Linked DNA regions of Homo sapiens. The protein of the gene in region 7 interacts with the protein of the main gene of each other region in a pairwise test. Each region holds a gene or a part of one and is shown on either strand. Other genes may lie near its edges.

The links.
Region 1: the proteins of ANKS1A (region 7) and SPATA12 interact in a two-hybrid assay, tested with the Homo sapiens proteins (one large-scale study listed by BioGRID).
Region 2: the proteins of ANKS1A (region 7) and ZNF135 interact in a two-hybrid assay, tested with the Homo sapiens proteins (one large-scale study listed by BioGRID).
Region 3: the proteins of ANKS1A (region 7) and RNF144B interact in a two-hybrid assay, tested with the Homo sapiens proteins (one large-scale study listed by BioGRID).
Region 4: the proteins of ANKS1A (region 7) and CASS4 interact in a two-hybrid assay, tested with the Homo sapiens proteins (one large-scale study listed by IntAct).
Region 5: the proteins of ANKS1A (region 7) and ITIH6 interact in a two-hybrid assay, tested with the Homo sapiens proteins (one large-scale study listed by BioGRID).
Region 6: the proteins of ANKS1A (region 7) and ANKRD55 interact in a two-hybrid assay, tested with the Homo sapiens proteins (one large-scale study listed by BioGRID).

The regions. Positions count from the first base shown.
Region 1 is NC_000003.12:57,067,164-57,070,663, forward strand, and holds part of SPATA12 (spermatogenesis-associated protein 12), read left to right. Parts: intron 1-3,500.
Region 2 is NC_000019.10:58,058,398-58,062,281, forward strand, and holds the start of ZNF135 (zinc finger protein 135), read left to right. Parts: upstream 1-1,452; intron 1,453-1,571; 5' UTR 1,572-1,605; coding exon 1,606-1,638; exon of another isoform or gene 1,639-2,001; intron 2,002-3,182; coding exon 3,183-3,309; intron 3,310-3,884. UniProt on the Homo sapiens protein: Plays a role in the regulation of cell morphology and cytoskeletal organization. May be involved in transcriptional regulation.
Region 3 is NC_000006.12:18,397,350-18,400,849, forward strand, and holds part of RNF144B (E3 ubiquitin-protein ligase RNF144B), read left to right. Parts: intron 1-2,149; 5' UTR 2,150-2,185; coding exon 2,186-2,350; intron 2,351-3,500.
Region 4 is NC_000020.11:56,418,760-56,422,259, reverse strand, and holds part of CASS4 (cas scaffolding protein family member 4), read right to left. Parts: intron 1-3,500. UniProt on the Homo sapiens protein: Docking protein that plays a role in tyrosine kinase-based signaling related to cell adhesion and cell spreading. Regulates PTK2/FAK1 activity, focal adhesion integrity, and cell spreading.
Region 5 is NC_000023.11:54,756,756-54,760,255, forward strand, and holds part of ITIH6 (inter-alpha-trypsin inhibitor heavy chain H6 precursor), read right to left. Parts: intron 3,173-3,500; coding exon 3,001-3,172; intron 2,244-3,000; coding exon 210-2,243; intron 1-209.
Region 6 is NC_000005.10:56,223,331-56,226,830, forward strand, and holds part of ANKRD55 (ankyrin repeat domain-containing protein 55), read right to left. Parts: intron 1-3,500.
Region 7 is NC_000006.12:35,014,755-35,018,254, forward strand, and holds part of ANKS1A (ankyrin repeat and SAM domain-containing protein 1A), read left to right. Parts: intron 1-2,271; exon of another isoform or gene 2,272-2,319; intron 2,320-2,718; coding exon 2,719-3,305; intron 3,306-3,500. UniProt on the Homo sapiens protein: Regulator of different signaling pathways. Regulates EPHA8 receptor tyrosine kinase signaling to control cell migration and neurite retraction.

The DNA.
Region 1 (3,500 bases), on a different chromosome or scaffold from region 7:
TTTGTCGGCCAGGCGCGGTGGCTCACGCCTGTAATCCCAGTACTTTGGGAGGCCAAGGCGGGTGGATCACAAGGTCAGGAGATCGAGACTATCCTGGCTAACACGGTGAAACCCTGTCTCTTCTAAAAATACAAAAACAAAATTAGCCGGGCGTGGTGGCGGGCGCCTGTACTCCCAGTTACTCGGGAGGCTGAGGCGGGAGAATGGCGTGAACCCAGGAGGCAGAGCTTATAGTGAGCCAAGATTGCGCCACTGCACTCCAGCCTGGGTGACAGCAAGACTCTGTCTCAAAATAATAATAATAATAATAATAATAATAATAATAATATTTGTCTATATACTGATCAAAGCTATCATAGTAGATATATTTGTTTTCAAATGCAACTTTAGGGTGGGTGCAGTGGCTCACACCTGTAATCCCAGCACACTGGGAGGCTGAGGCCAGAAAATCACATGAGGCCAGGAGTTTGAGACCAGCCTGGGTAATACAGAGAGACCCAGTCTCTACAAAAAATTTAAAAAATTAGCCGGCGTGAGACCAGGCACGGTGGCTCATGCCTGTAATCCCAGCACTTTGAGAGGCCGAGGCGGGCGGATCATGAGGTCAGGAGATCGAGACCATTGGCTAACACGGTGAAACCCCGTCTCTACTAAAAAAAAAAAACAAAACAAAAAAATTAGCCAGGCAAAGTGGCGGGCTCCTGTGGTCCCAGCTACTCAGAAGGCTGAGGTAGGAGAATGGCGTGAACCTGGGAGGCAGAGCTTGCAGTGAGCCAAGATCACACCACTGCACTCCAGCCTGGGCGACAGAGCAAGACTCCGTCTCAAAAAAAACAAAAACAAACAAACAACAACAAAAAATTAGCCGGTGTGGTGGCATGCACCTGTAGTCCCAGTTACTCTGGAGGCCAAGGCAAGAGGATCACTTGAGCCCAGAGGACACTAGACACGCATAGGGTAACTATTGTTTCACCAAATAATTCAGATATGCGCGCACACACACATACACACACACACACACACACACCAGGTTACCAGGTTGCAGTCTATGTTTTACAATAGGTCACAGTCAAAAACATGGGAGAAGCCACCATACTCCACCACACAATAAATGCTTAATAAAATTTGGTAGCATCATCATTCTTATCTCACTCTAAAAGGTAATACGTTCATTTTCTTCATTAGCATTTATTATCACAATAAAATAGAGCTTCTAACACATTTATCAATGCTGCCACTCACTGCAGTGCTGTTTAAGAGTCATTGCACCTCCCTAAATTAACTTGCCAATTCTCTCGCCTCAAAAGGACTCAGGCAATCATTTAAATAATTTCTGACTCACAAAGCTGGCCAAGGATTAGCGAGGCCCTGCCCAGCCCAGAACACATGAAATGTGAGTGATTTGTTAAGAAAACCATTTGAGTTTGCAAGACTGCACAGGGCTTTTATAAAACTAAAGCCATGCTGGAGAGAAACAGTCCTCCCCACCCCCTTGGGAGATGTGTCATAGAGATAGGTCACACAAGGTCAGCCAAGCTGTACCTTCTGAGACTGGGCAGGAACTGAAGCGCCAAACCTCAACTGTGTAACGTGCTTCCTTGTTTTGGGGTTAGGTTATATCATTGTGTTTTTCCCCTAACTTTCCATGTGCACACACACGCACACACCCCCCTCACTAAAGGATGGAAACAAAATCCCTATGAACTGCCGGTTCCAACAACTTAAATAAGGGAATCTGCTAAGGCAAAAGATCTGATTTTTTTTTTTTTTTTTTCTGAGACCGAGTCTCGCTGTATCACCCAAGCTGGAGTGCTATGACGTGATCTTGGCTCACCGTAACCTCTGCCTCCCAGGTTCAAGCAATTCTCTGCCTCAGCCTCTCTCTAGTAACTGGGATTACAGGCACTCACCACCACGTCTGGATAATTTTTGTATTTTTAGCAGAGACGGGGTTTCACCATCTTGGCCAGGCTGGTCTTGAACTCCTGACCTCGTGATCCACTTGCCTCAGCCTCCCAAAGTGCTAGGATTACAGGCGTGAGCCACCACGCCTGGCCTAGATCTGAGATTTTGAAGACCTCAAAACATATATTCTATTGCATGTAAGTTTCTCTTCTCCCAGAAACAAACTAAAAACACAGTCCAAATTCATGCTTTTTTAAATTGCTTTTTTGAAACAACTGCAATAAATAACTCTAATCTCTGTCTCTCAAACACACACACACACACACACACACACACACACACATTGTTTGTTTAAAATGAGAGCTCCTCACCCCAGATGAGTTGAGGTATGAATGGATTTGAAGTTTCAAATGTAGTTTCCCAGGTTGTTCTTTAAGTTTAGAAAACAAGGTTCCAAGTGATACAAATATAGGCACTCCATTTTTTATTATTTCTTTCTTGAAAATAAAATCATGTATTTGTGCTGTGCCAAAGCATTACATCTGGAACACATAAGTACATGTCAGGGTGTAAACTAAGCTTTTTTTTTTCTTTTGAGACAGGGTCTTGCTCTGTCGCCAAGCTGGAGTGCATTAGTGTGAGCACAGCTCATTGCAGCGTCAAACAACGGGGCTCAAGCTATCCTCCCACCTTAGCCTTCCAAGTATGTGGGACTACAGACATGTGCCGTCACACCCAACTAATTTTTAATTGTTTTATAGAAATAGAGTCTCGCTTTGCTGCCCAGGCGGGTCTCAAACTCCTAGCCTGAGGCAATGCTCCCACTTCAACCTCCCAAAGTGCTGGGATTACAGGCATGAGCCACTGCGCCTGGCCTAAACTAAACTTTTAATATGTGATATTACTCCCTTTTTATTTTTATTCCATTCTTCAAACTATGATGTGAGTGAATTGGGGGTGAGGGGCTAAGATTGTTTTAGCAGCAGAACTCTTTCCTCAAATGAAATTGTACCCCTTTGCCCAACAGATAAAACAAGATAAAATGGAGCCTGGCTTCAATTCTCCTATCACCACCTGGTGCCTCCAGGGCTGTGGGGTCTCCCAGTTCCCACCACACTTCTCCAGGCATGAAGCAAGGGGTTATGGGAGTATCTTAGAGATCTCCATCCCATCCTTAGCATGAAGGAAAGCCAGATCTGTCATATGTGTGTCCAGGTGCCAGATGCACTCCCATTTCACAAATTCAGGAGTTAAATGTCTTACCCAAGCCTTAAATTAGACACTACAGTATACTGTGTTACTTTCTTCAAAAAGGAAAGAGACATTTACATCGCTGGAGTTTTGTCTGTGCAGTTTGATGGATGGGTCTCAGAGTGCCTACTCAGCAGACTCAATGACTAGGGAAGCTGAGTGAGCAGTGCCACCAGCAAAAAGGAATTTAGGTTCCACAGTTAATATTGTTAAGATGGCAAAACTCCCCAAGTGATCTACAGAGTCAATGTAACCCCTGTCAAAATCTCAGGTCTCTTTTTGCAGAAACTAACAAGCTGATCCTAAAATTCATAGGGAGATCCAGAACAGCCAAAATAATCTAG
Region 2 (3,884 bases), on a different chromosome or scaffold from region 7:
CCAAATCTTTGCAAGTGTCTGTGTGTGGTACGAGAATTCGTATTGTGTTCTCTGCTGTTTTCAGAGTTGTTTCAGTCAAAGAAAAAAAAATGCCCGTCTTAAAACTTTTCCTCTGCTTCAAATACAGCTCCCAAGCCCAGGCTGATTGGAATTAATCTGTCCTCCCTTAAAAGGGCAAAAGCACAAGGCTCAGCCCTGGCTTTCCCAGCTCCTCTGGTCTCGCTGCTCCACGGACGTGTGACGTACGCTGGTGAAACGAAGCCCGCTTGAATGGGGGCTTCACTATTGTGTGCTGCTGAACCTAGGCCTAGCGCCTGGCAGGCTTTGGTGAATGTTCAGAAAATGACAATTCATTTCGTGTCAGCGAGGGCACACCAGCTTTGAATATTTTGCTGCTGTTCAAATGCACAATTTTGACAATTACCTAGCAATGTCCAAAGTCGTCATAATTGTTAGTGTCTTGCACGTGATGTTCCTTATAACCATGTAATAAATACAGTGTGAAGTCTCCATGGCTGCCTCAGTGTGGAAAATGCAAAGACTCCCGTGTGTGCGATCTTGGTGAATGTTTTGGTTGAAAGTATGTGTTTTGAAAAAATCATTGCTTTGTTTGCAGCAGTAAAACTGACGGTAGAGTTTCCAACACGAAAGCCCGTGTGGTCGCGCCGGGAGCTCACGGCGTTCCAAGCGGCACTTATCCCGCGTTGATGCCCAGGCACCCCGCGCGCCCTGTTTCACCAGGCCCAGTCACTCCAGCTCCAGCAGCACTGAGAGCTCACGAACGCCAAGGGCGAGAGCGAGGTGGGGGAGGGCGGCCGGAAATGCGCGCGCGGCTCTCTGGGAAATGGAGTTAGGCTCGCGCCGGCGCAGTGTCGGCTGCCGGTGCCGCGGCCTTTGTCTCGCAGTCAGGAGGGTGAGCTAGGCCGGCGAGGAGGGGGAGGGGAGGCCAGGCCGGGCCGGGCCGGGCCGGGTGCGGGGGGTCCGGGGATCTTCCTGAGGCCCTGGCGGGGCGAGTTTCCAGCAGCGCGCGTCTGTGTGGAGTCCGTTTTGCTGCCCGGGGCCTGGGGAAGGCCGTTTCGGGGCTGGCGGGGGCAGGCTTTGCGGGGCATCCCTAGTCTGAGAGGAGGGCGGGGCCCAACGCCCAGCTGGACAGGAGCTGCTCCGACGGCCCCTGAGGGAACGCGCGCCCCGCCCCTGGCCCCACCTCTGCCCCACACCGGGCACTGGGCCGCCACCTTTGTTGATGGAAGAGAGAAACTGAGGCATAGTGCCCAGGGCCAGGGGACCGCAACCACCCGGCCCTTGTCACTGTAGCGTTAAGGCTCAGAGTCTGCGCAGCAGATATGTGTCCGCACCCGCCAGGCCTTCAGCTTCCCTCAGACAGGCGGGAAAACCCTAGGCTGCCCTTCTCCGAGCGGAGGGCCGCCCCACACACAGCAGGCGCTTAAACGGGTACGCGGGGCCCTGGACGGCTCTCCGCGGAGCTCCCCAGGCTCTGGCGCAGTTCCCCGGCTTGGGGACCTGAGCACCGCCTCTGCCTGCCCCAGCTGCTCACCTCCCCTTTCCCACAGAGCAGGGCCAGCCGTTCCTGCCAGAAGCCAGGGCATGACCCCTGGGGTGCGCGTCTCCACAGACCCGGTGAGAATCTCGGCCTCCTTGCGCGTGTCCTCCACCTCGTGCCCGGCCTCCTCGCGCGCGGCCTTCTCACGCCCGGCCTCCTCTTTGCACCCCGTCCCTACTCGCGCTCAGCCTCCTCCTTGTGCCCGGCCCCTACTTGCGTGCCCGGCCCCTACTCGTGCCCGGCCTCTACTCGCACAACTGGCCTCTACTCGCGCACCTGGCCTCTACTGGTGCCCGGCCTCTACTCGTGCCCGGCCTCTATTTGCACATCTAGCCTCTACTCGTGTCCGGCCTCTACCTGCACACCCGGCCTCCTAAAGTCCGCGCCAAGCTCCCCAACCACAGCCTGCCTCTGAAAGGACCGCCCACGCCGCGCTGGAGGTCAGCGGGCACGGGTCCCTGTCTGAGTGGGCTTTATGTTTGTGCGGCCGTCATTGCATACCTGAGGCTGGGTGATGTCAGAAAATTGTAGGTGCCCCGGCTCTGCAGTCTGAAGTTGAAGGCCTTAGCATGCTCTGCGCTCCAAGATGGCGCATCGAGTGCCGCTTCCTCAGACGTCATGGAGGCCAAGGGGGCGGAACTCGCCTTTTTATGATGACATTAACCCCACCCATAAGCCACCAGAAGAAACCAGCCTCCTGTAGGAATGTCAGAAAACCCGTACAAGGGGACTGGTGCGATGGCTTGTAGCTGTAATCCCAGCTATGGGGGAGGATTGCTTGAGCCCAGGAGTTGGAGGCTGCAGTGAGCCATGATGTGCCACTGCACTCCAGCCTGAATGACAGTGGAACCCTGTCTCTAAAAAATTAAAAAACAAACCCAGATTTGGCCGGGCGCGGTGGCTCGCACCTGTAATCCCAGCACTTTGGGAGGCCGAGGTGGGCGGATCACGAGGTCAGGAGATCGAGACCATCCTGGCGAACACGGTGAAACCCCGTCTCTACTAAAAATACAAAAAAAAATTAGCCGGGGGGGTGGCGGGCGCCTGTAGTCCCAGCTACTCGAGAGGCTGAGGCAGGAGAATGGCGTGAACCCAGGAGGCGGAGCTTGCAGTGAGCCAAGATCATGCCACTGCACTCTAGCCTGGGCGACAAAGCGAGACTCCGTCTCGGGGGAAAAAAAAAACCACCCAGATTCAGTCTTTAGACTTCTGCTACTAGCTTTATAACTTTGTTTATCCCCTAGGCTGAAGTGCAGTGATGCAATCATGGCTCACTGTGCTTCAAACTTACGTGCTCAAGTGATCCTCCCACCTCAGCCTGTTAAGCAGCTGGGACCACGGGCATGCGACACCATGCTGGGCTGGTCCACTCCTTTATTGCTGGCTCCCTCCATTTCTTATTTCAAGAGACAAATTATTGGAAACGGGCATGATGCCTTAGATTCTAAGATCCTCCACCTCATCAGCAGGGCACCCATCCAGGCCCCACAGAAAAACCTGACCCAAAACCCCAGACCAAAGGGAACTCCATCCGACCCAGCCTGGCTGGCATTTACCAGCTACCCCACCAGCAGCCAGTGCCAGGGTTGGCTTGGCTGAGGACACTCGTGTGATGTTTCAGGAGCAAGTGACGTTTGAGGACGTGGTAGTGGGCTTCAGCCAGGAGGAGTGGGGGCAGCTGAAGCCTGCCCAGAGGACCCTGTACCGTGATGTAATGCTGGACACCTTCAGGCTTCTGGTCTCTGTGGGTAAGGCCACACCCATGTCCTATCTGTTGATCTGTCCCTGACACGGATTCTGATTCTACCAGGTTAAATATTTATAGGACTGAGCTTTAAAAGCAAATGCCTGGGGCTGTATGTCTTGGGCTTTAAGAACCTGACTGTTTTAATGTAGGAAATATCAATTAAGACCAATATTAGCAAGTCTCAGACTCAACCTGAAATCAACAGAAGCAGAGAAACATGAGGTGAGGGAAACATACTGGGTCTGAAGACTACAGAATCCCAGGGTAGACCAGGGTGTTCTGTAGAGCTGTTAGGAGCCCCTCCTTCTTCAACACCTCCCTCTGCACTTCTGTCTTAGTCTGTTAGGGCTGCTAAAATACCTTAGACTGGGTAATTTTAAACAATAGATATTTGTTGCTCATGGTTCTGGAGGCTGGGAAGCCTAAGATCAAGGTGTCAGCAAATTCAGTGTTTGGTGAGGGCTTGCTCCTCACTGATGGCACTTTCTTCCTGTGTCCTGACATGCCATAAGGGCAAGGGAGTTATCTCAAGCTTCTTTTATAAGGGCACTGATCCCATTCATGAGTGGAGCCCTC
Region 3 (3,500 bases), about 17 Mb from region 7:
AGCTTGGTTCTTGTAGGGGGAGGTGTATTTGCAATTATTTCTATGGCAGAATTTATTAGAATTGGCCACTCTTTAAAAATAGTAAGAACTATAGGATTTTGCTTTTGTTTAACCAGAACATGAAATTTCCAGATGTGATATAAAATATGAATATGTGGAGAAATTATTTTCACAATTATTTAGTCTCTTTTAAAGATAAAGATTCAGAATAAAAACAATCTAGTAGAAGAACTTTGGCTGTAGTTTTTATTTTTCAGTCTAAAGATGTCTTTTCCCATGGTCATGCTGTGTGGGGAGACAAATTTTGTTTCTGTGCAGCTTCAGGGACCTTAAGGATAGCTGTAGTCATGGACTTCAACTCTCTTTTCCTCTTTCTGTCCCCCTTCCTCCTTCTTTTCTCTGCTTCGTCTGTCCATGTGATATCCACACAAGGCAGCTCTGGTGTAATGGATCTGGCACTGGGCTTGGTGGCCTCAGAAGGCTGAGGATTGTCTTCTGCTCTGCCATGTACAAGCTCTGAGAACTTTGGCAGATTACCTAACTTATCAGTATCACAATTAATCTATAAAATGGGGAAAACAATTATTTCATCATCCCAAGCAGAAACTCTGTACCCGTTGAACATGCCAGGTGAGGAAGCATACCCTGACTCGGGAGGTGGAGTCGGGAGGGTCATGTCAGTCCAGGAGTTCGAGGCTGCAGTGAGCTATGATTGTGCCACCACACTCGAGCCTGGGCAACAGAGAGAGACCCTTTCTCTAGGAAAAAAAAACCCCACAAACAGTAACTCTTCATTTCCCCCTCCCACCAGCCCCTGGTAACCTCTATTCTTCTTTTTGTCTCTCAGAATTGACTACTCTAGGTACCTCATTTAAGTGGAATCATACAATATTTGATTTTCTGTCTGGTTTATTTCAGTTAGCATGATGTCTTCAAGGTTCATCCATGTTGTAGCATGTGTCAGAATTTTATTTCTTTTTATTCCACTGTATATATAGACCACATTTTGTTTGTTCTTCTGTCTTTTTAATTTTTTATTTTTTGAGACGTTTCATTCTGTCACCCAGGCTGGAGTGTGGTGACGCAATCTTGACTCACTGCAACCTCTGCCTCCTGGGTTCAAGTGATTCTCCCGCCTCAGCCTCCTGAGTAGCTGGGATTACAGATGTGCCACTGTGCCTGGCTAATTTTGTATTTTTGTATTTTTTGTAATTTTGTATTTTTAGTAGAGACGAGGTTTCACCATGTTGGCCAGGCTGGTCTTGAACTCCTGACCTCAAGCAATCCACCTGCCTCGGCCTCCCACAGTGCTGGGATTACAGGCATGAGCCACTGCGCCCAGCCTCATTCTTCTGCTGATGGACACTTGGGTTGCCTCCACTGTTTGGCTATTGTGAATAATGTTGCTATGAATATGGGTGTACAAATATCTCTTTGAGACCCTGCTTTCAGTTCTTTTGGGTATATACCCGATTGCTGGATCATATGTTACCTCTTTGTTTAACTTTTTGAATGACATTCTATTTTAAGTACTTTTTGAGTCTGTTGAATTGATTGTAGTGATGCAACTCCTAAATATGTTTGCTCATAGTGATATTTCCCGCCCCTGACCTTCATTAAGGTATAATTGACAAATTACATTTGCAGTATACAATGTGATGTTTTGCTCTATGTATATAAATGCTTAAATCAAGCTAATGAACATCATCACTTCACATTTTTCTTTGTGTGTGTGTGGTGAGATCATTTAAAATCTACTCTTGGCCATTTTCAAGTATACAGTGTATTATTACTAACTCTAGTCACCAAGCTGCGTGAGAGCTCCCCAGAACTTATTCATCTCATCTAAATGAAACTTTGTAAGCTTGACCAACATCTCCCCATTCCCACCCCACCATAGTGGTCTTTTAATTTCCATAGCTCATATGATGTGAATCAGGACAGTGAGGTCAGCTTACATTTCAGGACTTCAGGGATACCTTGCCGAGGTAGGTGAACCACTCTCTAGCCCGTCGTTCCCAGAAATGCATTAGCTGTAAGTTTTGGGATAACTGAGGGTGAGAATTTGATCAGCTGGCCTCCAGACGTGTTGGCTAAACAATAGCTTTATCAATCCATATAATATTTTCTGCTTTGGACCTTTCTATAGGGATTGAGGAGACTGAAGAATGCTGAAGACAGGCTGATGGGCTCAGCTGGTAGGCTCCACTATCTCGCCATGACTGCTGAAAATCCCACTCCTGGAGACCTGGCTCCGGCCCCCCTCATCACTTGCAAACTCTGCCTGTGTGAGCAGTCTCTGGACAAGATGACCACACTCCAGGAATGCCAGTGCATCTTTTGCACAGCTGTGAGTTTTCCTTGATGCTTTCACTATGAGAAAATACAAAGGGAAAAATCATAAAAGTAGGATATATTTCTGTGGTTTACTGAGAAACCAGAGTGTGCTACAATATGATCCTGCTTTGGAAAGCATTTCATATTTGAACCTATTTCCAAATAGTATCTTAAATGGTAAATCCTGGGTTTACTTGTTTTAGCTGAGTATAATTTATGTTTGAAATTTAATTATTGGTTGAATAAATAGTCTTTCTGTTAAGGTTCAAACTATGGAACAGAATAGAAAAATTTTAACATGCTGGCCAGGTGCGTTGCCTCACACCTGTAATCCCAGCACTTTGGGAGGCCGAGGCGGGCGGATCACAAGGTCAGAAGATCGAGACCATCCTAGCTAACATGGTAAAACCCCGTCTCTACTAAAAATACAAAAGAAATTAGCTGGGCTTGGTGGCGGGCGCCTGTAGTCCCAGCTACTCGGGAGGCGGAGGCAGGAGAATGGCGTGAACCTGGGAGGCAGAGCTTGCAGTGAGCCGAGATCAGGCCACTGCACTCCAGCCTGGGCGACAGAGCGAGACTCTGTCTCAAAAAAAAAAAAAAAAATTTAACATGCTGTAGTTAACTACCACCTATAAGAAACTCACCAGGTATTTTAAATGATGGAGAAGTCAGGTAGTAATTTACTTTATGTACTGAATTTTCATTCATATACTTGTTCATCTTCTACAATGTACATGATATAAATTGTACTTTGTCATAGCTCCTTTTATGCTGTTTTCACAGTATGCTGAATCCTTCTTATTCCACTTAATGAGAGCCCTATAGACCTGCAGAAGTGGGCTTATCTCTTTTAGTGTGACACCTGGTATCAACACCTGTGACCTTTACTGCCACTTTTCCTTGAAGGTTGGTCGGTTAAGGTATAAAGGTAGGAAATAGATTGAGTTCCTGTAGGCTTCAGTGATGACACAGAATAGCATTGTTCATTTAATCAACAAATATCTGTTGAGCAGGAACTATGTCCCAGGAATGGTTCTAGGCACGAGGATTTATCAGTTAAGGAAACAAAACCCAGCGAAGTTTCTTGCTTTTAGGAGCTTATATTCTATATAAGAACGTTGTGTAGGAGTTCAGGGCTTAGAGGATGTTGCTGTTTTAGGTAG
Region 4 (3,500 bases), on a different chromosome or scaffold from region 7:
TCCAACTCAAAGTGCTCCAGAGATCGTAGTGTGTTCATTCACAGCCTTGCCACTGCCTGCCACCGCCAAGTCTATTCCTTGCCAGCTAAGTCCCTGAGTTATTGCTTAAGATATTTGGTTTGGGGAACTGTTGGATCAAGTCAAGGGGCTGACAATTTCACCCTTGCTCATGAAAAACCCACCGAAGGAGGAGGCAAGTAACAGAACTTCTCTGGGTTTCAGTTTCTTCACCTGAAAGTGAGATAGCTTCCCAGGGCAATCGCCAAAGTTCCCATCCAGCTGCAAAATCTACATTTCCCATGAATTCTTCTCTTACTCTTACCTCTTAGTTCATGAAAGCCATCTGAGGGATTACAGAGAAAATAACATGCAGGTGCTTTTCTCTCTAACTTCCTTTCCTTTCCTTCCCTCTTTCCTTTTTTCTTTTTTTAAGGAAAAAAGTGAGGAAAGGCATAAAGAAAGAAGGAGTTTTGTGTTATTTGATGGGTCGTAAGCAATTATGCCGACACCAATTAGAAGAAAACTTTGTCTAAGCCTGTGTTTCTTTTTCTCTTTTCTTTTCTAGAGACAGGGTCTCACTTTGTCACCCAGGCTGGACTGCAGTGACGCGATCACAGCTCACTGCAGCCTCGAACTCCTGGGCTCGAACGATCCTCCCACCTCAGCCTTTCAAGTAGCTAGGACTACAGGCATGAGCCACCAAACCCAGCTACTTTTAAAAATTTTTTGTAGAGATAGTCTCGCTATGTTGCCCAGGCTGGTCTCCAACAGCTGGGCTCAAGCGATCCTCCCACTGCAGCCTCCCAAAGTGCTGGGATTACAGGCGTGGACTACCACACCCAGCCCCCAGCCTGTGTTTCTAAAGGGTTTTGTGTCTAGCAACTGCCTGCTTCCTGTCATATCCACGTGCCACTACAATTTTTTAGGTAAAATAACAAATTGAGTCAATTAAAAAACAACTGTCCCTCAGCGATGTTACCCATGAAATTACAGGTTTGATGAGCTAGTTTTAGTTTGTTTGAATGCAAATCAAGATACACCAGTATTGTACAAAAACTGTTCTGTGCACCACACTTGAAATCCTCTGGCATGCCTGCAGTCAGGGCACTTCCATTTGATTGACCCGGAAGAATTCAAAGCTGGCTCAAGCTGTTTAATGCATGACAGAGAAATGAGTGAAGGTTCAGGCTTGTTCACCAAACTTTTCCATCTTTCTATGGTCATTTTTAGAGGTGCTTCAGGAAAGCAAGGAGCCACTCTTTTGTTTAAGCTTTTCTTCTTTTGTTCTGTTGGTGTGAATTTATTGCAATTCACTAGGTTTGTTCGTTTAGTTGTTAATAATGGACTACACATAAACCCACCCCAGTCCTTATTTGGGATACCCAAAGGGGGCTTACCGAGAATGTCTTATGTAACTGGCCCTGACTCCCAGTGGCTGGCAATTCACCTCACTTTGGGGAACACCAGTGTAAGGAAGGAGCACCTTGAGTTGTTTGTTATTGATTACTGACTCTTGTGCTTCTATTCCCCTTTCAACCGTGGGGAGACTCTCACTTTTGAACCTGGGCCGGGTGTGGTGGCTCACTCCTGTAATCTCAGTGCTTTAGGAGGCTGAGGCAGGAGGACTGCTTGAGGTCAGGAGTTCGAGACAAGCCTGGGCAATATAGGGAGAGCCCCTCATCTCTACAAAAAAAAAAAAAAAAATTAGATGGGCATGGTGGCGTGCACCAGTAGTCTCAGCTACTTGGGAGGCTGAGGCAGGAGGATTGCTTGAGCCCAGGAGTTTGAGGTTGTAGTGAACTATGATAACGCCACTGCACTCCAGTCTGGGTGACAAAGTGAGACCCTGTCTCTAAAAGAAAATTTCTGAACCCAAAGTGAACATTCCACAAAGCACTTTTCACTTACTGTTAACCAGATGGCAAACACCTCCAAGACACAGGGATGACCCTACTGCTCTTTTGCCCCCTGTCCCTCCCTAACCCCACAAAAGACAGACTGCCTGGGCTGTCCAGAACATGTAGAGCAAACAAAAGCTGCTCTTGATGATAAGGTGAAGCAGTTGTTCAAAGGAAAAGAACAATACATTCACTAACATAAACTCGTGGAGAAACTCTCTGAGTGGCCAGGTAGGTGGCCTCAAATTGCCTGTGAATAACTTTTTCACAGTCCACACTCATCTCCTAGAGGAGCTTTCTTTTGTTTGTTTGTTTTTGAGATGGAGTTTTCGCTCTTGTTGCCCAGGCTGGAGTGCAATGGCGTGATTTCGGCTCACCACAACCTCCGCCTCCTGGGTTCAAGCGATTCTCCTGCCTCAGTCTCCTGAGTATTTGGGATTACAGGCGTGCACCACCAAGCCCAGCTAATTTTTGTGTTTTTAGTAGAGATGGGGTTTCTCCATGTTGGTCAGGCTGGTATTGAACTCCCGACCTCAGATGATCCACCTGCCTTGGCCTCCCAAAGTGCTGGGATTACAGGCATGAGCCACTGTGCCTGGCCTCCTAGAGGAGTTTTAAGAGTGCAGAGCCTAGCCGGGCACGGTGGCTCACGCCTGTAATCCCAGCACTTTGGGAAGCTGAGGTGGGCCAATCACTTAAAAACAGGAGTTCGAGACCAGCCTGGGCAACATGGTGAAAAAAAACCCACCTCTACTAAAAATACAAAAATTAGCCGGGCACAGTGGTGCATGCCTGAAGCCCCAGCTACTTGGGAGGCTGAGGTGGGAGGATCACTTAAGCCAGGAGGCTGAGGTTGCACTGAGCTGAGATTGTGCCACTGTACTCCAGCCTGAGCGGGGGTGGTGTGGGGGAAGTGCAGGATCTCCCACACTGAGAGCTGGGGATGCTTTCCCAGGAACAAGAGGCCACGCATATTCTTCTCAGTCTTCTCAGTGTCGACTATGCTTTTCGTAGGTGTGTGTACAAGGCTGCTCTTCCCCTGAACAAACACTTCATAGGCGTTATGTTTGGAAATGGTTCCTAAAAAATGTATTTCCTTTTTTTGCAACTCAAGTTGGAGTGTTCTAATCTCCCCCTCCGTGGCAGCTCTCTTACCAGCCTCCCACCTTCCTCCTTTTAAGCTATTTCCCCTTCAGGCCCCTGTCATTTCCTCCCTTAGTCATCGCAATTCCAAAACGGCCCTGTTTTGATTCTACAGTTGCTTCCCCATTCCATTATCGTGTCGGCCAATGCCTGTCTATTCTCAGACCTTTTAAGTTTTGGGGTGATGGTGGCATTCTCCTTAGCTTTTTTTCCCCCCAAGTGTGCTCTATAGGAAATAAAATGTTCAAAGACTACAGGTGATTAAACAGGGGAACCAATAATGAGTATGTGATGGATTTTTTATTAGTCATAATAATTATTTACTACATATGGAGAAAGGGGACCAGGCACTTGGACTTGGAAGCATTTAGAACAGTGCCTGGTGTGCAGCAGGCATTCAATATTTGTTGACGGAATGAAAGGTACATTGTGTTCCTGAATCAAACGTAACACACATAA
Region 5 (3,500 bases), on a different chromosome or scaffold from region 7:
TCCATGCATGTATACTGAGGCCCAGAGAAGTTAAGTAACTTGTCCAAAGTCCCAAAGCAAGCAAGCAAGCAAGCAAGCAAGCAAGCAAGCAAGCAAGGAAGCAGCTGTCCCATCACTGGAGTCTGCATAAGCCTTGTAGATTCCCAGCTCCTGGTACTGTCCATTCATACCTCACCCTCATGGCTCGACCTCTTACCCATGGCACTCACCATCTTCATCAGGAGTGAGGAAGGTATAGAAAGCTGGTGGGTTCAAGGACTCCACGAACTTGGATTCCACCATTGATTCAGACAGCAGCTCTAGCTCCTCAGGGAGAAGGAGCAGACTGATGGCCTCAGGGAGGATGCTAGAAGGCAGCAAGATTGGCAGGTTTGGAGGGCTGCCTTCTGGTGTAGGCCTGGAGCTGTTGAGTAGGCTCATTGTTGGAACTCCTGGCCTAGATGGTCCCAGAACTTGCCTGGTCCTCTGGGGACCCGGGAGGAGGTCATACTGATGCCAGAACCTTCCAGGGGGCAGAGTGGGAGTAAAGGGCATGGGGAGGGGTTCTCCAAGGACAGAGGTGGTTGTGGTACTGCTGGGACCTGTGGAACTTGAGATTGTATTTGGGAATGTGCTTAGGCTCTCAGGAAGTGGGGGCCTTGGTCTGTCAGGTCTAGGAGGTAGTGGGGTTTGAGGCATATGGGGGTTTGGGGTCTCAGGCTTGGAAAGTGATATGCTTGTGGAAATTTGGTGTGGTGGGGCACTCGGTTTAAGAGATAATAAGATTTTAGGGGTCTTGGACAAGAGGATTCCAGGCCCCAGGTGTGGCATGTTGTTTCGGGTCTTGGGAGCAGGAACCCTAGGTCTGGTGTGTAGTGGGTACTTGGGAACCTGAAGTGTAGAGACTCCAGGTCTTGACTGTGGCAGGCCTTTAGGTGCCTGTGATGTGAGTGCCCCAAGTTGGGGGTGCGATGGAGCACCAGGTTTGGAATGCAGTGGAGTAACACATTTCACAGTGTCAGCTTTGGGCGAGGCTGGGATGCCAGGTTTCACAGGTGGGACTTGTGTCCTGGAGTTCGTGGGTAATATATCAGGATTCTGGTGTGATAGAGAGCCGGGCTTCAGAGGCAACAGAGTACCAGAATTTGAGGGCACAAGAATGGTAGGTTTTGTCCTGAGAGTTGGCTGGGCCAAGGTGCCAGAATCCTGTTGTGCTGGAATTTTGGCCTTTGGGTATGTGGGCATTGACAGGGTATGAGGGCTCTCTCCCAATGGCTCCAGCTCTTTGGAACTTAGCATCTTCTTGGTAGAGGCAGTAGTAGTTGAGGATAAGTAGAACTTTGGTTTCACAGGCCTTGATTTGGGGGAGATGACCTTGGGCACCAAGGCTGGCTGAGCTGTGCTTACCCCTAGGCCATGCCTGCTGCTGGATGAGGGCATGATGGTGTCTGGCCCAGCAGAGGTGGAAGTCTGTCTCCTGGTCTCCTCACTGGCCTGTTTGGGTTGCACCATGACCAGTGAAGTCAGAGGTGTGACAAAGTTGTATTCAAGGGACAGGTTGAGGACTTTGGCAGCCAGCAGGTGGCGAGTGGTGGTGTCACGAGCTTGGAAGTGTGCATCCAGCAGTTCTCCAATGGTGACATAGGCCCAGAGGCGGCGGATGAAGTGGGCCACATTGGGGGCTGGCTCCCCTGGGCAACCAAAGGCCTTCTGGCTGTTGTTGGTGGCCCCTTCACTGTGGTGGGCCACAAGAAGCTGATCCTTGGGGCCACGGGCTGCCAGGTGGATGCCCAGTTCCTGTTTGCCTGGCTGCACCTGTCCTGCCACCACCAGCTCAGAGCCACCAAAGTAGTTGGGGAAAACGGCCCAAGGGGAGGCCCCAACCAAGCCACCCAGGTAGTTCAGACGCACATCTGCCAGCAGAGGCATGGAGATCTCCTCATAGAGGCCCTTCAGCTGTAGGGCCGCATCAGTGTCCTCATATATGCGCCGGGCTATTCCCCGGTTTTCCAGGGACAGGCGGCGCAGCAGTGTAAAGTCAGCATCATCCCCAAAGGCCAAGCTGAAAAGGGATACCCTGTGGCCTAGCGCCTGACGGACATTGGAGAGGATCACACTGGGGGTCGTCACGCCGGCCGTGGGCTCCCCATCCGTCAGGAAGATGATAAGAGGGATCCTCCCCACACTGGGGCCCCTCCCAGGCTCCTGGTTGCTATGGTTCAGCACTGAAGCAGCTGCCAGCAGAGCTGAGTTGACGTCTGTCCCTAATTGGGGAATAGATTGTGAGACCATCTTCTCTGGTCACTTCTACCCCCATTGCAGACACACTGGGCACCTCATCAACTTCCCAGGCTCACAGCTCCTTATCTTTGCTCAGGCTGTATCCACTGTTTCTCCTTCCCAACTTCTCCACTCCCACCCAGACTTGCTGAGATCTGACATTGGGGCCCACATGTCCTTGGCTTTTATCACTCTCTGTCTCACACTGTTCTTTGTCTGTTTCCTTGGTGGTGCAGGGTCGAGGGGGGAGATGTCTCATTCCCGAGCCAGACTGGCAGGCTCCCAAGGCTAGCACCCCCCCCTCCAACCTTCTTGCTACAGGGGAAGAAAGGACAGAGTTGACAGGAGGCAGTGGGTAGAGGAGACTTCAGTAGTTGTCAGAGACGATTGCTTAAAAGCTAGAATCAGGGCAGCAGCTTCCTCAAATGCTTGGAAATAAATATCTAGATTATTGATTTAAAGAAAGTTTAGCAAATTCTTTCAAGTGTTTGCTTTAAAGAAGAGGAAACTGAGGCCAAAAAGAAATGTGCCCTAAGATACATGGAGAATCGGCTGTGCTCTTTCTACAAGGAAAGGGTGATGGGAGAACACAGAGGACAAAGGACCATATTTGTGTGAAATGTGGTCTTGATATTTCAGGAACTGTGAGAGTTGAGGAGGATGGGGGAATGAAGAGAGGGTTTCAGGAATTTCCCATATCACCACAGCCTGCCCATTTGGGTGGGTAGATCTAACACTTACAGCCATCGGCTTCCATGCAATGCAGGTAGTCCTTGGCACTGTGGACATTCTGGATGGTGGCCTGGATTGAGCCTCCAGCTTTCCAAACATTAACTGTGTCAGAAAAGGAGATGATGTTGAAGTAGTCATTGGCTTGAAGGTCACTGAGGATCACATTCATGGCCGTTTTAGTCTGTGGGATATGGATGAAATGAAGAGAATGGGACAAGACTTGAGGTCTATGAGATTGAAAGGCTTTTTCTACACAAGGCATTAACATCTAAGTGTTATATGGTTTTAAGACTCTCTGACTGCAGGACTCTGTGAATCTAGGATTCTCAGGTGAAAAGACTCTATGGGTTCCAAGGCATAGAACTGCACTGTTTAATATGGGAACTAATAGTCACATGTAGCTACTTATATTTGAATATAAACTAGCTAAAATTAAAGAAAAATTCAAACATTTAATTCTTTATTTGCAGTAGCCACATTTCAAGTGTTCAATAGCCACATGTTGCCAG
Region 6 (3,500 bases), on a different chromosome or scaffold from region 7:
CCTAAAAGAGCTCCTGAAGGAAGCACTAAACATGGAAAGGAACAACTGGTATCAGCCACTGCAAAAACATGACAAATTGTAAAGACCATTGATGCTAGGAAGAAACTGCATCAACTAACAAGCAAAATAACCAGCTAACATCATAATGACAGGATCAAATTCACACATAACAATATTAACCTTAAATGTAAATGGGCTAAATGCTCCAATTAAAATACACAGACTGCCAAATTGGATAAAGAGTCAAGACCCATCAGTGTGCTGTATTCAGGAGACCCATCTCACATGCAGAGACACACATAGGCTCAAAAGAAGATCTACCAAGCAAATGGAAAACAAAAAAAGGCAGGGGTTGCAATCCTAGTCTCTGATAAAACAGACTTTAAACCAACAAAGATCAGAAGAGACAAAGAAGGCCATTACATAATGATAAAGGGATCAATTAAACAAGAAGAGCTATCCTAAATATATATGCACCCAATACAGGAGCACCTAGATTCATAAAGCAAGTCCTTAGAGAACTACAAAGAGACTTAGACTCCCACACAATAATAATGGGAGACTTTAACACCCCACTGTCAACATTAGACAGATCCATGAGACAGAAAGTTTACAAGGATATCCAGGAATTGAACTCAGCTCTGCACCAAGCGGACCTAATAGACATCTACAGAACTCTCCACCCCAAATCAACAGAATATACATTCTTCTCAGCACCACACCGCACTTATTCCAAAATTGACCACATAGTTGGAAGTAAAGCACTCCTCAACAAATGTAAAAGAACAGAAATTATAACAAACTGTCTCTCAGACCACAGTGCAATCAAACTAGAACTCAGGATTAAGAAACTCACTCAAAACTGCTCAACTACATGGAAACTGGACAACCTGCTCCTGAATGACTACTGGGTACATAATGAAATGAAGGCAGAAATAAAGATGTTCTTTGAAACTGATGAGAACAAAGACACAACATACCAGAATCTCTGGGACACATTTAAGGCAGTGTGTAGAGGGAAATTTATAGCACTAAATGCCCACAACAGAAAGCAGGAAAGATCTAAAATTGACACCCTAACATCACAACTAAAAGAACTAGAGAAGCAAGAGCAAACACATTCAAAAGCTAGCAGAAGGCAAGAAATACCTAAGATTAGAGCAGAACTGAAGGAGATAGAGACACAAAAAACCCTTCAAAAAATCAGTGAATCCAGGAGCCGCTTTTTTGAAAAGATCAACAAAATTGATAGACCACTAGTAAGACTAATAAAGAAGAGAGAAGAATCAAACAGATGCAATAAAAAATGATAAAGGGGATATCACCACTGATCCCACAGAGATACAAACTACCATCAGAGAATACAATAAACACCTCTACGCAAATAAACTAGACAATCTAGAAGAAATGGATAAATTCCTGGACACATACACCCTCCCAAGACTAAACCAGGAAGAAGTTGAATCCTTGAATAGGACAATAATAGGCTCTGAAATTGAGGCAATAATTAACAGCCTACCAACCAAAAAAAGTCCAGGACCAGACAGATTCACAGCCGAATTCTACCAGAGCTACAAAAAGGAGCTGGTACCATTCCTTCTGAAACCATTTCAATCAACAGAAAAAGAGGAAATCCTCCCTAACTCATTTTATGAGGCCAGCATCAACCTGATACCAAAGCCTGGCAGAGACACAACAAAAAAAGAGAATTTTAGACCAATATCCTTGATGAATATTGATGCAAAAATCCTCAATAAAATACTGGCAAACCGAACCCAGCAGCACATCAAAAAGCTTATCCACCATGATCAAGTTGGCTTCATCCCTGGGATGCAAGGCTGCTTCAACATACACAAATCAATAAACGTAATCCATCATATAAACAGAACCAAAGACAAAAACCACGTGATTATCTCAATAGATGCAGAAAAGGCTTTCGACAAAATTCAACAGCCCTTCATGTTAAAAACTCTCGATAAATTAGGTATTGATGGGACGTATCTCAAAAAAATAAGAGCTATTTATGATAAACCCACAGCCAATATCATACTGAATGGACAAAAACTGGAAGCATTCCCTTTGAAAACTGTTACAAGACAGGGATGCCCTCTCTCACCACTCCTATTCAACATAGTGTTGGAAGTTCCGGCCAAGGCAATCAGGCAGGAGAAATAAATAAAGAGTATTCAATTAGGAAAACAGGAAGTCAAATTGTCTCTGTTTGCAGATGACATGATTGTATATTTAGAAAACCCCATCGTCTCAGCCCCAAATCTCCTTAAGCTGATAAGCAACTTCAGCAAAGTCTCAGGATACAAAATCAATGTGCAAAAATCACAAGCATTCTTATACACCAACAACAGACAAACAGAGAGCCAAATCATGAGTGAACTCCCATTCACAATTGCTTCAAAGAGAATAAAATACATAGGAAACCAACTTACAAGGGATGTGAAGGACCTCTTCAAGGAGAATTACAAACCACTGCTCAACAAAATAAAAGAGGACACAAACAAATGGAAGAACATTCCATGCTCATGGATAGGAAGAATAAATATGAAAATGGCCATACTGCCCAAGGTAATTTATAGATTCAATGCCATCCCCGTCAAGCTACCAATGACTTTCTTCACAGAATTGGAAAAAACTACTTTAAAGTTCATATGAAACCAAAAAAGAGCCCACATTGCCAAGACAATCCTAAGCAAAAAGAACAAAGCTAGAGGCATCACGCTACCTGACTTCAATCTATACTACAAGGCTACGGTAACCAAAACAGCATGGTACTGGTACCAAAACAGAGATATAGACCAATAGAACAGAACAGAGCCCTCAGAAATAATACCACACATCTAAAACCATCTGATCTTTGAGAAATCTGACAAAAACAAGAAATGAGGAAAGGATTCCCTCTTTATTAAATGGTGCTGGGAAAACTGGCTAGCCATATGTAGAAAGCTGACACTGGATCCCTTCCTTACACCTTATACAAAAATTAATTCAAGATGGATTAAATACTTAAATGTCAGACCTAAAACCATAAAAACCCTAGAAGAAAACCTAGGCAATACCATTCAGGACATAGGCATGGGCAAGGACTTCACGTCTAAAACACCAAAAGCAATGGCAACAAAAGCCAAAATTGACAAATGGGATCTAATTAAACTAGAGAGCTTCTTCTGCACAGCAAAAAAAAAACTACCATCAGAGTGAACAGGCAACCTGCAGAATGGGAGAAAATTTTTGCAATCTACTCATCTGACGAAGGGCTAATATCCATAATCTACAAAGAACTTAAACAAATTTACAAGAAAAAATCAAACAACCCCATCAAAAAGTGGGTGAAGGGTGTGAACAGACACTTCTCAAAAGAAGACATTTATGCAGCCAACAGACACATGAAAAAATGCTCATCATCACTGGCCATCAAAGAAATGCAAATCAAAACCACAATGAGATACCATCTCACACCAGTTAGAATGGCAATCATTAACAAGTCA
Region 7 (3,500 bases):
CAAAGTCATCTTGCATTCAAATATAGTCAGAGGGACATTGTACCTTGGGCCAGGATCTGTAGGAAGTCGGCTATTAGAATGTGGTCCCAGAGATGGCAAATTTTACAGCCTGATTAACTCTCCCCATCAGCTTCTCCTAGGAAGTACTATTGACCTGAACCACATTAAATGGTCATGTGTCATCCTCACTGTAGCCCCACCATGCAACATCACTGGGTAGCTTTGTTCTGGCTGCCAGTTGTTATATGTAATATTCGTAGCCATGAGTCGTGGCTTCCTGGGGCCTTGGTTAAGCTATATGAAACTCTTATGTAATCAGCATTCCTTCTTCCCTAGAGAAAGGATTCAAGTTTTTCAGGGTTTGTTCATTGCTCAGGACCTGACCTTTAAGTTGAGTTGAGGTGTGAAAGTCCCAAAGTGGTCAAGTTTGAAAGTCCCAAAGTGGTCAAGTGTAGAGGAGGGGCCCAACACAGTGGCTCACGCCTATAATCCAGCACTTTGGGAGGCCAAGGCAGGCAGATCACTTGAGGCGAGGAGTTTGAGACCAGCCTGGCCAACATGGCAAAACCCCGTCTCTACTAAAAATACAATAAAATTAGCTGGGCGTGGTGGCACACACCTGTACTCCCAGCCACTCAGGAGGCTGAGATGGGAGAATCGCTTGAACCCAGGAGGCAGAGGTTGCAGTGAGCCAAGAGTGTGCAACTGCATTCCAGCCTGGGCAACAGAGCAAGACTTGGTCTCAAAAAAAAAATAAAGAAGTGTAGAGGAGAGAGATGCCAAAGTTGGTGCTTCTGTGCTCCTGTGGATAAGTAATCAGAGCCATAAAGTGGAGCTAATTGGCTGCCCCTGGCCACTTCTCTAGACTCGTGAAAAGCTGAACAGACTGTGGAGACTGAACTGCTCTTCTGGAGCTGGGAGGGGAGAGGGGGCGATGGGAGAACTGTATCCCTGCTCAGACCTCAGCGAGTTGGGCTCACTGTGAGAGCTGGTTGTTGAGACATTTCTTAAAGGCTGTTTTGAAAAAACCACTGTTGCAGGAGAGTAGCGTCATGCTTGGGCATTGGAGACTGTGTTTTAGTACATTGTGTTTATAAAGCACTGCTCATTTTGCACCCCTCCTCACCTGGCTACCCTCTCCAGTTGCAGAACTGAACCTCAAGAAGGGGCTTTGGGCCTTCAGGCATGCTGATGAGGGAGAGTGGGTGCTGTGTAGACAGCAACAGGAGAGGTACCCAGGCAGGCATCTCACATCCCTAAGGGGGAGAAGTGTGCCATCATGACATGGTGGAGACCTGGATTCTCATCACTATCATGACATTAAAGGGATTTTTAAGTATCATGCAGCCCAGCCCAGTCACTTTAGACGCTGAGGCCCAATAAGATGAAATCACTGCCAAGGCCACACAGCTAGAGAACAGCTCAGCCAGGACCAGAGCCAGATCTTCAGGCTTCTAGGTTGAAGTCTTCTCCTGCACCACCTGGGGTAACCACTAAGACTCCTCATCTGTAAACATAGTTGACCCTTTTGGTTCTAAGATTCTCTGAGCTCATGAATAGTTCTTGAGAGTTTTGAGCAAACTAGGGAATTGTTTGGTATAGGTGCAATAGATCCCACTTATAGAGAAGGTTAAGTTGAATATTATGGAATGTGAGCTAGTGCTGGACATAGTGTTATTTACTCTGATGATGTGGGTTAAAATCTTTAATGGGGCTGAGTTCATGCAAGGAAAGCCCCTGGGTGTGCCAGTGTAGTGCTGATGTTAGATTCTGATTTGGCCAATTATTTATGCTACTTCAGGGCGAGGTATTTGAGTGTACAGTAGTAGCTGGCCTCATGAGCTAGTAGTGTCAGATTTCTAGGATGTTAGGGAAGTCTCGAGAGAACTGCAAATGTCTCCTGGCATTGACAAATTAGACCATTTTGTTTTCAGTGGATCAACTAAGGTTAAACTTAAACAAATATGAGCAGCTGGGAGATTTTGGAAGAAGCAAGATGTGCACATTCTCAAAAAAAAAAAAAAAAAAGAGAGAGAGAAAGAAAAGTCTGTGCTCCCTGAGGAAGGAAGGATGAGGCGTGGAACTCGGAATGGCCCCCTCCGAGGAAGGAAGCAGTTATTTCTCTGCCGTTTTGTTTCTGTTAAGGAATTCCAGAAGTTGCAGGTTGTGGATCATGACCTCTTTTTTTTTTTTTTTTTTTTTTCTGTTGCTGCTTGCCAGAGGAAGGGAGGGCGGGTGGCCTTTAAATAACACTTTGGCCTTTATGGAAATGTATCAGATGTTCCAGGAGTGGGTCTCCCTGCTCGCGCTTGCTCACTGGTGCTCTTACTTTTGCTTCATGTTCACTCACTCTGTCCTGACTTGTGTCCTTTCTCTAGGTTATACTTAACACTCTTCTCGCCTTATATAGCAAGGTCTGGTCGTTAATGTTAACAGAAATCTAACAACAGGGAAGGCTGCCAGATAGCATTAATCAGGCCAGTGTTTGGAATTTCATAAATGCTCTGACTTTGGGTACAAATTGAACATTAAGAACAATATGAAAACTGTCTTCCTTCCTCTCTCTTCTTCTCTCCTCTCCCCCTCCCCAGCCTATCCAGTTTCTCTCTCTGTTTCTCTGTGAATTCCTCTGCTTTGCCATATGCTTGCTGCATTGGAACTTTGTTGATTTTTGCCACGTTTAATTTTTTATTTCTCTGTCTCTCCGTCCACTCCAAGACCACAGGCGGAGCAGCAGCAGCCGGAGCCAGGACTCTGCGGAGGGGCAGGACGGGCAGGTCCCAGAGCAGTTCTCAGGCCTCCTCCACGGCTCCTCCCCGGTGTGCGAGGTGGGGCAGGACCCTTTCCAGCTGCTCTGTACCGCTGGCCAGAGCCATCCAGACGGGTCCCCCCAGCAGGGCGCCTGCCACAAGGCCAGCATGCAGCTGGAGGAGACGGGTGTGCATGCTCCTGGAGCCTCCCAGCCCAGTGCCCTGGACCAGAGCAAGAGAGTGGGCTACCTCACAGGCCTGCCCACCACCAACAGCCGCTCGCACCCTGAAACTTTGACTCACACAGCATCTCCGCACCCTGGTGGTGCTGAGGAAGGAGACCGGAGTGGGGCCAGGAGCCGAGCGCCTCCCACTAGCAAACCCAAAGCTGAACTCAAACTCAGCCGCAGCTTGTCCAAGTCTGACTCTGATCTCCTGACCTGCTCACCCACAGAGGACGCTACCATGGGGAGTCGGAGTGAGTCCTTATCCAACTGCAGCATTGGGAAGAAAAGGCTAGAGAAGTCACCCTCCTTCGCCTCGGAGTGGGATGAGGTAAGGCCGACATGACGTCACAGGGAGCTGGGCTGGCCAGGCTGGCCGCAGCCCACCACAGCTCCCGTGAGTGCCAACTCTCAGGCCCAGGATCTGGGCAAGGTTGCTCTGGTTCCTTCACTCCGTAACTAATGTATTTCTGACAATCGTAAGAAGAGGCGAGCCTCAGGTAGTCTGGATCACAGAGGACAGGTC